2 separate regions of the Homo sapiens genome follow, and region 2 is linked to region 1. Evidence: fine-mapped expression QTL. A gene starts in region 1. The other region holds a variant in brackets. All regions are shown on one strand. Distances are from middle to middle. Region 1 holds the start of DCDC2C (doublecortin domain containing 2C). Region 2 overlaps DCDC2C (doublecortin domain containing 2C).

Evidence for each region. PIP is the estimated chance that this variant, and not a neighbour inherited with it, causes the effect.
Region 2: its variant is the best candidate, but not a certain one, in a credible set for the expression of DCDC2C in caudate (GTEx, PIP 0.54).

What each region holds. Positions count from the first base shown.
Region 1 is chr2:3,701,229-3,706,429 of GRCh38, forward strand. DCDC2C (doublecortin domain containing 2C) reads left to right here and starts at 2,347. Exons shown (of 11, transcript NM_001287444.2): 1 at 2,347-2,810. The coding sequence starts at 2,524. ALLC (allantoicase) reads left to right here. Exons shown (of 12, transcript NM_018436.4): 11 at 284-408; 12 at 1,135-1,443. The coding sequence ends at 1,335. LOC105373393 (a long non-coding RNA gene) reads right to left here and starts at 2,272. Exons shown (of 3, transcript XR_922732.1): 1 at 2,231-2,272; 2 at 1,580-1,886; 3 at 1,332-1,411.
Region 2 is chr2:3,790,337-3,795,537 of GRCh38, forward strand. The region is part of intron 10 of DCDC2C (doublecortin domain containing 2C); the gene reads left to right. Among named protein-coding and RNA genes, the nearest start is that of DCDC2C, 89 kb to the left of the region's middle. The variant C/T (reference allele first, on the strand shown) is at 3,210.

The DNA of each region.
Region 1 (5,201 bases):
AGTGAGAACGCTATACATGCAAATTGAAATGCGCCAGCCCCTTCACATATGGCGGACTGCTTCTGAGTCCTCTGAAAAAGAAATGTCTATTTCATGAGACAATCTGAGCCTCACAAACCGGTTTGTTCCTTCCCTCACATACTTCATACCTTTGCTTTTGCTCAGGAAGAGCAGGGACTTGTTTTTTGCTGGGTTTTTGATCTTATTAAAAAAGCATGATATCCTATACGCCAAACTGAGTGCAAATGCGGGCAGAAAATCACGCTGTGTTTTGCTCCAACAGGCAATGCTCCTGACAGCTGTAAAGTGGATGGGTGCATCCTGACAACTCAGGAAGAAGAAGCCGTGATCAGGCAAAAGTGGATTCTCCCGGCCCACAAGTGGAAACCACTGCTTCCAGTGACCAAGGTTCGTGTGGCATGTTATTCGGATCCAGCACTCAGACTGTGCTATTTCCCTAAGATTCTCTTTTGAAGGATTAGGATACGCTCCAAAGTTTCTGCTCAGTTTAATGGTAAAACGAATGAGGTTTAAAACCCCTATCTGCAAACTTTAAGAAGAAAGGCTCTATTTCTCTCCACTTTTGTATTTCCAAATTTTATTAGAACAAAATTGTTAAATGTTCAGAATACATACGTGGAAACATGTCTCTGCATCATGTTTAACTTTGTAGAAGGGGCGACTAGCACATTTAAAGCTCTAATGGCGTGTCCACCTGCAGGATGGATGCTCTGAGATATTCCACAAGTGTCTTCTTTGATTTAGAAAGAGGGTCAGGCTAGAGGTGAGAGCTGCTCCCATGTAAAGATAGGAAATAATCTCCGGGAGAGACCAAGATGGTCTCTTCCTTCATTTTCTTATCAATTTGCTTATGTATAATCAACTATTAGAAACAACTGATGGGCATTTAGGTTGCCCATCAATTGTTTATTGGGGCCTGCTTATTCATGTATTATTTGGGCATCCTATCCCTACTAGCAGATTTTCATGGAAAGCCCAATTATCATCAATTAATAACTTATTTTAAAGCCCCTTCGGTTAAGTCTAAGCCAAAGGTTTGCCCGGGCCGTGGGCTCATTCGGCCACACATGTCCTGTTAACAGACTAGGACCTCTGCATCTGCTTGCTTTTCAGTTGTCTCCCAACCAAAGTCATCTGTTCGATAGCCTGACCCTAGAGCTCCAAGATGTCATCACTCACGCCAGGCTCACCATCGTCCCCGACGGGGGAGTGAGCCGCCTTCGGCTCCGGGGCTTCCCCAGCTCCATCTGCCTCCTGAGGCCCCGGGAGAAGCCCATGTTGAAGTTCTCGGTGAGCTTCAAAGCAAACCCTTAACACACACAAAGCCCCGGTGTCGGACACACAGCAGTAATTTCCCAGTCATAGTCTTCTTTTCAAATGTTTTGAACACCTGGTGATTTAATAAAGTGGTCGTCTCACAAATTGATCTCTGTATTTAATGTTGCTATGAGGCATTTAGTAGCTTACATACTGGCTATGGCTGTGACTGGTGGTCTCTACGGAACTACTTTTTTTGAACATTATAAGATATTAATACTCATAATATCAATATCTGTACCTTCGGTGTGGACTTCCAGCCGTAACATGTAGCCTACTGACTGTCTAGAATCACTCAAGGGGACTGGCCTATCTTTACCCAGAGTAGGAACGATTCTTCCAAAGACCCCCTCTCCCTTTGAATCATTCCCCAATGAGGATGCGTTCTGAATGGCACGCGCCTGACACCGCACACCAGCGGCTATAGCGCGGTTCCTCACGGCCTCCCAGTGGCTCTGCACACCTCCTCCTCTGGTGGAAAAGCTCAAATTCCCCACTCTGGGCCAGGAGTCCTGGAAGACACTGGGGCTGAACCGGTCAAATTCAACCTAAGATCAAAGAAACAGAGGCTCAAAAAATGTGAAGCAGATCCCAGCACCCATCCAATGTTGATTGTCAAGATGGTCCTGGTCCCTCCCTAACCCTCCTCTCTACCGCTTCTACAGAGGAAGGCGGCGAGTGTAGGGGGAGGAGGCACGGTGGGCGTCCCGGGGCGCTCAGCACAATCATGCTAGCCGCCTCCTCCTCCTCTTTTCCTGAGCTCTGCCGCCACGCCCCTCACCTGCCCGGGCTCCCCGTTGCCCCCTCACCTGTCTCCGCCCTGTGCCGCGCCTCACCTGCTTGGGCTCCCCATTACCCAATCACCTGTCCCTGCCCCGTGCCGCCTGCTCACCTGCCCGGGTTCCCCGTCGCCCCGTCTCCTGCCCCGGCCCCGAGCCCCTCGCCCTGGCGGCCAGGCGGTCACAATCGCCCAGGGTCGCGTCAACACGCAGCCTCCGCCCGCCTGGCAGCCCCGTCCCGTCCCCGTCCAGCCCCCGTCCCGTCCCCGTCCCGTCCCCGTCCTGCGCCAGCGGCTGGAGCGGACCTCCCGTCGGCGGTGCCCGGGCCTGGGCGCGGCTCTGCAGGCGTCGCTGCCCGCGCTGCCGCAGCCTCTCGGCCCCGGCGAGCGAGGAGCGGGGCGCGGCTATGGGAACCCGCGGGCCCTCCGCGCCGGTGGACACCACGCCCGCCAAGACCATCGTGGTGTACCGCAACGGGGACCCGTTCTACGTGGGCAAGAAGTTCGTGCTGTCGCGGCGCCGCGCGGCCACCTTCGAGGCGCTGCTGGAGCAGCTCACGGAGCAGGTGGACGTCCCGTTCGGCGTGCGCCGCCTCTTCACGCCCACGCGTGGGCACCGGGTGCTGGGGCTGGACGCGCTGCAGGCGGGCGGCAAGTACGTGGCGGCGGGCCGCGAGCGCTTCAAGGAGCTCGAGTAAGTGCGCCCGCGCCCCCCACGCGCCCTGCGCCCCTCCCCGCCCTCTTGGGTCTGAGCGTGGTCAGGGCCGTGCCCCCCAGGTGTCCTCCCCAGGCTTCCCTCCCGGCTCGGGCGCCCATCTTTCGGCGTGGATCCAGCGCAGCCGGCGTCGGGCCGCCCCAGGCCACGTGGTTTCCTGGGGGCGAAGCCGAGGCAGCCCCGCCCCCAGGGTCCCTTCCTATGGGGCAGGGCGGGCCCTGGCCGGCAGCGATTCAGGACCGCCCCAGAGACGGCCAGGAGGGCGTGGGGGAGGGGCGTGGGGCAGAAACAGGGGTGTGGAGGAGGGCGTGGGGGAGGGGTGTGGAGAGGGGCGTGGGGGGCGTGGGGGAGGGGTGTGGAGAGGGGCGTGGGGGAGGGGTGTGGAGAGGGGCATGGGGGAGGGGTGTGGAGAGGGGCGTGGGGGGCGTGGGGAGGAGTGTAGGGGAGGGGGAGGGGGGAGGGGCGTGGGGGAGGGGCATGGGGCAGAAACGGGTGTGGAGGAGGGCATGGGGGAGGGGTGTGGAGAGGGGCGTGGGGGGCGTGGGGGAGGGGTGTGGAGAGGGGCGTGGGGGAGGGGTGTGGAGAGGGGCATGGGGGAGGGGTGTGGAGAGGGGCGTGGGGGGCGTGGGGAGGAGTGTAGGGGAGGGGGAGGGGGGAGGGGCGTGGGGGGGAGGGGCGTGGGGGGCAGGGCCTGGGAATGGGGCGGGTTGGGCAGTTCCCATTTGAAATCGCTCAGGGTGACCCCTCTCACTCTGTGTCCATCACTTGGTCCTGCGTGCATTTTCAAGCTTGCCTTTAATTAAACTATTGCCCTCCCACGGTTTGTGTCTGTAATCCCATTATTGCAGCCTGTGTCTGCTTTCTGTGATCTCAGCTGCTTTTCTCTCCTGATTCTCTGTTTCCTTGTAGGTTTACTTATTTTTTGACTGTGAACTACTCCTTTTGTATAGCTTTGTGTGGGGACATTCTTCAGGGCTGAGATAAAAGTGAGATTCCCCAGAGAGAATTTCCATTTTCTTCTTTCAAATGCTCTCCGTTCAAAAATGCTCTGAATTAAATCAGCAGCTTGAGTTTTGTTTGTTGTTTTTTGAAAAAGTAGTAGGATTTAGTATGAGGGCTGGTGTATGGTTCCAAATTCTTAGTGGCATTTGCAAAGATGTGAATTTACCATTCAGTTGTTTCTGAAGAAAAGTCGTAAGTCACAGGCATCACAGTTGCTAAGAGGTAGAATCTGGATTAGCATATTTCAGATTGAAATTTATTACTATGATAATCCTGTTATGTATTAGAATTCATGGACAAAATTATATTCCTTTATAGCCATGTGATTTGTGATTATTTTTTCCAAGCTAGTCAGATGGTGTGAATATCTAGAACTGACATCCTACCCAGGATCCAGTGTTCAGTGCTGATTTACAATTAAAGAATATATCTCTACAAAAACTGCCTTTAAAGTCCCTTTCGATACATATATAATGAAAAGTATTTAATTTTATCCCAAGACATTTTCTTGTAAAATTGGCCTGTGTTTTACATGTTAGCAAATGAGGAAGGAAACGTATCAAGCACCTGCCACGAAGCCTGGAGTGTGCCTGGGAGATGTTACTCTTTCCCCTTGCTGTGGGGCTGGATATTTTCTAACCAGACCGTGTTGTACCTCCAGTTTTGTAGAGAGAGTCTCGAGTCTCATGGTTTATTTAAAATGTTTTGGACATGTAGCAAAAATATTGAGAAAAAATTGAGATGTTTTTCTTCCCAGTGCTCTTACTGTTTATTTTACTTTTTGGGAGGAAAGAAATGTCACCCACTGCAGAGGGAGGGGAGTTGGGGTCCGTGTGGCAGACAGCCTGGGTTATTTTGCATTATCTATTATCCATGCATCTTCACTGCTGTAAAATAGATGAGCCATGTCTGCATGTGAAGTTCAACATAGAGAGCACGTGGGGTTCCTTTTCTTCAGTTTTTTTTAGGTCAGTGAGTCTGAAATTGGAATTCAGACTTTGGTGAACAAAGCTCTGAAAAATGTGGCTGGATTTTCACTGGTATTAGTAAAGTAAACTAGCTCTTGGAAATTTATATTCTGTAATTGCTAAGCCATTGAGCAGTTCAATTAATTTTCACTGGAAAATAATATTCTAATTGTGTCACCAGCAAATGAACTTTGAAGTGAAGCCTGTTGATATATTAGTGATCCGGGAGCTCCCCTCATAATAGTGGTTTCAAGATGGTGCATTAAAAAGACAAACACCAACAAATCTATCCAATATCCAGCCATTACTCAGACATTTCCTGCATTTTCTGGAAGAAAATAATTTGAGACCCAAAGGACATAATTTTTTTCTTTATAAAACAAAATATTATAAGATAATA
Region 2 (5,201 bases), 89 kb after region 1:
ATGCTTAAGACATGCTAAGCTCAGAACGTCAGCCATTTTCCATCGCCTGCAGCTACTGATGAAAACACCATTTCAGCATCTTACTGAAGTGAAATGCATCCACAGATCCATAACAATCATTTCCTCTCCTTGTGTGCTTTCTCAATCAGTGGAGGGTTTTCATTTAATTAACATTGCCAGAAATGCCAATAAAACCAGGATCCAGCATTATCTCTGACTCAGGATTTTTGCAACAAAATGACAATGGCATTGATTCATTAATTGATTTTTAAAATTAATCGCCTGCCCAGTATCTTTACTGTTTTTTCTCTTTATTATGTTGATACTACTCCATCACCACAGCTAAGTCTTTTATTGCTTCTCTAAGAGACAAGGTCAATAGCAATCAACATTGGAGTCTCAAAAGTGAAGTCTAAGGTCATTAGTAATGCTAAGTGGTGTCGTGGTGAAATATTAAGCAATGAAACTTTTAGAAAATTATTTGGTTCTAGGCCGGGCGCGGTGGTTCATGCCTGTAATCCTAGCACTTTGGGAGGCCAAGGAGGACAGATCACGAGGTCAGGAGATCGAGACCATCCTGGCTAACATGGCGAAACCCCGTCTCTACTAAAAATATAAAAAAAATGAGCCAGGCGTGGTGGTGGGCACCTGTAGTCCCAGCTACTCGGGAGGCTGAGGCAGGAGAATGGCGTGAACCCGCGAGGCAGAGCTTGCAGGAGCCGAGATCGCGCCACTGCACTCCAGCCTGGGCCACAGAGTGAGACTCTGTCTCAAAAAAAAAGAAAATTTTGTGGTTCTAGAAGTAGAAAGCTTGTATCCCTCTATACATAGGAGATTCATTTGGACTCAAATAATAGGAGAAAGATTTTCACTTAAAAACAGAAAAGATGCTCTGGGCAGTGCTCTTCATGAATAAAACACAAGGTATTGCATTGGCATTTTATAAGAGGCAGTCATGGATGAACCAATCGCCTTTTCGTGTGGTGGGCTCCACTCTTCATTAATCAAACACACGGTATTGCATTAGCGTTTTATAAGAGACAGTCACGGATGGACCAATCGCCTTTTCGTGTGGTGGGCTCCATGGAAGCAGTTTTGTTGTATTCACGACAATTTTAGAAATCACAACTAGGGTCCTGAAGAAGGAAATGAAATGGTTCCAGTCTAGCCTGGAGAAGTAGCAAGTGAACAAAGATCAGCGGATGCAGGTCAGTTTTCACCGCCTTGCCTTCCATCTTGGAAGCTTCCCTACTTTCCTCCTGGTTGCTAGGCTGAGGACTCAAATTCTCATCCTCTTTCCCTCTCCCCAGTGGACTTGGATTTGCTTCCCAGCTTCCCCGGGGGCCTGATGACCCTCACACCTCTCCAGCACTGTGTTGTTTGCAGTGGCCTGGGTGCCATGCCAAGGCTGGGCCAGCACTCTTCCTCCCCTCCCGCCGGCAGAATGTCTTCTCCTCTAAGCCACCCTGTGGGCAGGGTGCAGGATCCAGGCAGTACTCTCATGACACACCGCCACAGGGCATTCTGTGTCCCTCTGGTATATTCAAACTTATTTTTGACCTTGACAGTGAAAAGGAAAGGAGATGAGATGAAGCTCGGTGTTCAGGGAGCACCCAATTCCTCAGTAGCCTTTGGCCATTCATTTATTAGTTCATTTTTTTTTTAATTCACCAGTTATCCACAATATTATCTGTTACAGAAAATTGGTTTTAAGCAGATAGACAAAATTCTTACTTTGGGACATCTGCTATGACATAGACAAAGAACAGTGATGGGATTTTGCTGTGAGCAAACTCTTAATTAAAAGTGTCAGTGTAGGTATCTCCCGTGGGGTTAGAGGACATTAAAGTAGTTCATAGAACTTGATGCCTGCCTTGTAACGCCTAAGCAGCAGGAATAGGCCCTGGAGAAAACAGAAACAGTCCCTGCTAGTTCAGCCGGATGGTCTTCTCTGAGCTGTGCATCCAGCCCCTGGTGTCTGGGGCTTCAGATTCCATTTCTGTTCTCCACGAGTGGCCCCTTGTCCTACTTCTGTTGGCCTCAGGTTGGCAGGTGTTTATTAAAATATGACCACATAATGCACAAGCCATTGTAGTCACAAAAGGAAAGTATTTTATTTGTATTTACTTGGTTTTCCCCATGAGTTACAGAGATCCTCTCTGTAACTTTTAAGATATATGAATTATTTCAAATTATAATTATATATATAGTCAATTTACGATGTTTCTGCAAGGTACCAAACAAGCTGGAGTTTAGGTTGTGGTAACATAGACCTGGTTGTAAATATAAATTTTGGACACAAAAAGTAACATTTCAAATTTTCATTTCTGGGAAGGCTTAATGAGAAATCCTTATTGGCTGCTTACACCACACTCTGTGAGGGTACTTTTAGGGGAATTTATTACTTGGTTACCCTAAATTGACAGCCATATTTTGGAGAAAAATGTGTCTTCTCCGATGAGCAATTTAAGGAAAGAAAATCAAACGTGAAGAGGAAAGGGACTTGAAAGTCCACAGACACTTTGAATTGACAAATGAGATTGTTCAGGGGCCTTTTTTCTTCATATCTTCAGGGAACCTGGCAGCTTTTCCCCAAGACAAAGCCAATGTGAGAAGCATCTGGGAGTTTTAACTCAGAACTGAGATTCGCCGTTCAGAGTACATGGAGATTCCATCCATAAGGTCGTATAATTTCCGTTCAAGGCAAGGCATTTGTTTCTCGTTTGTTCATCTTCAGGATTTGTCTTTATTGATCTTTGAAGGAGGGGTATCCACGGCGTTGCAAAAAAGAGGTCCATAAATACAAACTCGCATTTGCTGTTTGTAAATAGAATGAAAAGTAAAAGACAGGCCTTAAAAAAAGTTGTAGTATACCCAAACGCAAATTTACACCTTGATTTACACTTAAGAATACATTTCACAAATTGGTAAATATTGTAGGCACAGATTGCATATGAACTTGACAAGCCGTCTGTATACTTGGGATGGACGAAAATGCTCCTAAACATCCTTCAGTGCCGCCTTCTGCATCGGAAGCCTGTGCAGCATTCTTGCCACATGACTTTGTCACTGCTGTCCAAATGTGTGTCACATACTCTGTGCACCTGCAGCTGACAAATGCGCCTGTGCCAGATGGCCTGGCTCCCTGTCCTGCTGTCCATCAGCAGAATGGACTGAGTCTGTGGGATCTTACAATTCTGAGCCAGAAA[C/T]ACCACTGGAAATTATTCCTCTCCAGTGCTTTTGTATGAATGGAGGGGAAATGGAAGTGTCTCTTTGCTAATATCAATACTGTAATTTAAAAATGTTCAGTCATTTCTCTGTTACAATAGAAATGTTTTAAATGAATTCCAAATAGCAGGCATCCAGTGTCTATCAGGCACGCCACATTCTATGCCAGGTTCAGACACAGATGCAGCAAGGTGTAGACCAGGTCACTGCGTCTAGGCTGCTGTGCTCCTCAGAGACAAGAGGCTGTGCAGAAAGGTGGTGGGTGTGGGGGCAGAGGCCAGGTCATGGGCAAGGGGGCTTGAAGCATGTTTTTAATGCAGTCTTTCTATTTTTGCTTGTGATGTATAAAAATCTCACATAAATATGTACTTGAAAAAGAGAGGAATATTTGAATAGACTTTGTTGATAATTGTGGATATTCTTTGGTACTACACCAAAACTTGACAAGTGATAGTTTCTTAAAGGTTAGTTACAATGTGGAATCAGAACCCATATCAATGAACTTTTTATTCCCTGTTACATTAAAATCTATTGTTATATTCTGTACTTTGAATGCATTTTTACCCATGCAGCATTTTACAACATGATGCATTGGTCATTTGGAAAATATTGGTTCATTGAGTTATGCAAATGTTCAATGAGTTATGCAAATGTATGACACATTTAATTATACAATACTTAAAAAATCACATGCATTAATATTTTCATCAACATCTTTAGAAAAGACTTTTAGTATTGTGACACTGTCAAACACATGTGCATGTTTTGCAAATTTGAAGTTTTTTATTATTATTTTTAAATTTATTTATTATTATTATACTTTAAGTTTTAGGGTACATGTGCACAATGTGCAGGTTAGTTACATATGTATACATGTGCCATGCTGGTGCGCTGCACCCATTAACTCGTCATCTAGCATTAGGTATATCTCCCAATGCTATCCCTCCCCGCTCCCCCCACCCCACAACAGTCCCCAGAGTATGATGTTCCCCTTCCTGTGTCCATGTGTTCTCATTGCTCAATTCCCACCTATGAGTGAGAATATGTGGTGTTTGGTTTTTTGTTCTTGTGATAGTTTACTGAGAATGATGATTTCCAATTTCATCCATGTCCCTACAAAGGACATGAACTCATCCTTTTTTATGGCTGCATAGTGTTGCATGGTGTATATGTGCCACATTTTCTTAATCCAGTCTATCACTTTGGACATTTGGGTTGGTTCCAAGTCTTTGCTATTGTGAATAATGCCTCAATAAACATACGTGTGCATGTGTCTTTATAGCAGCATGATTTATAGTCCTTTGGGTATATACCCAGTAATGGGATGGCTGGGTCAAATGGTATTTCTAGTTCTAGATCCCTGAGGAATCGCCACACTGACTTCCACAATGGTTGAACTAGTTTGCAGTCCCACCAACAGTGTAAAAGTGTTCCTATTTCTCCACATCCTGTCCAGCACCTGTTGTTTTCTGACTTTTTAATGATTGCCATTCTAACTGGTGTGAGATGGTATCTCATTATGGTTTTGATTTGCATTTCTCTGATGGCCAGTGATGGTGAGCATTTTTTCATGTGTTTTTTGGCTGCATAAATGTCTTCTTTTGAGAAGTGTCTGTTTATGTCCTTCGCCCACTTTTTGATGGGGTTGTTTGTTTTTTTCTTGTAAATTTGTTTTGAGTTCATTGTAGATTCTGGATATTAGCCCTTTGTCAGATGAGGAGGTTGCGAAAATTTTCTCCCATTTTGTAGGTTGCCTGTTCACTCTGATGATAGTTTCTTTTGCTGTGCAGAAGGCTCTTTAGTTTAATTAGATCCCATTTGTCAATTTTGTCTTTTGTTGCCATTGCTTTTGGTGTTTTAGACATGAAGTCCTTGCCCATGCCTATGTCCTGAATGGTAATGCCTAGGTTTTCTTCTAGGGTTTTTATGGTTTTAGGTCTAATGTTTAAGTCTTTAATCCATCTTGAATTGAT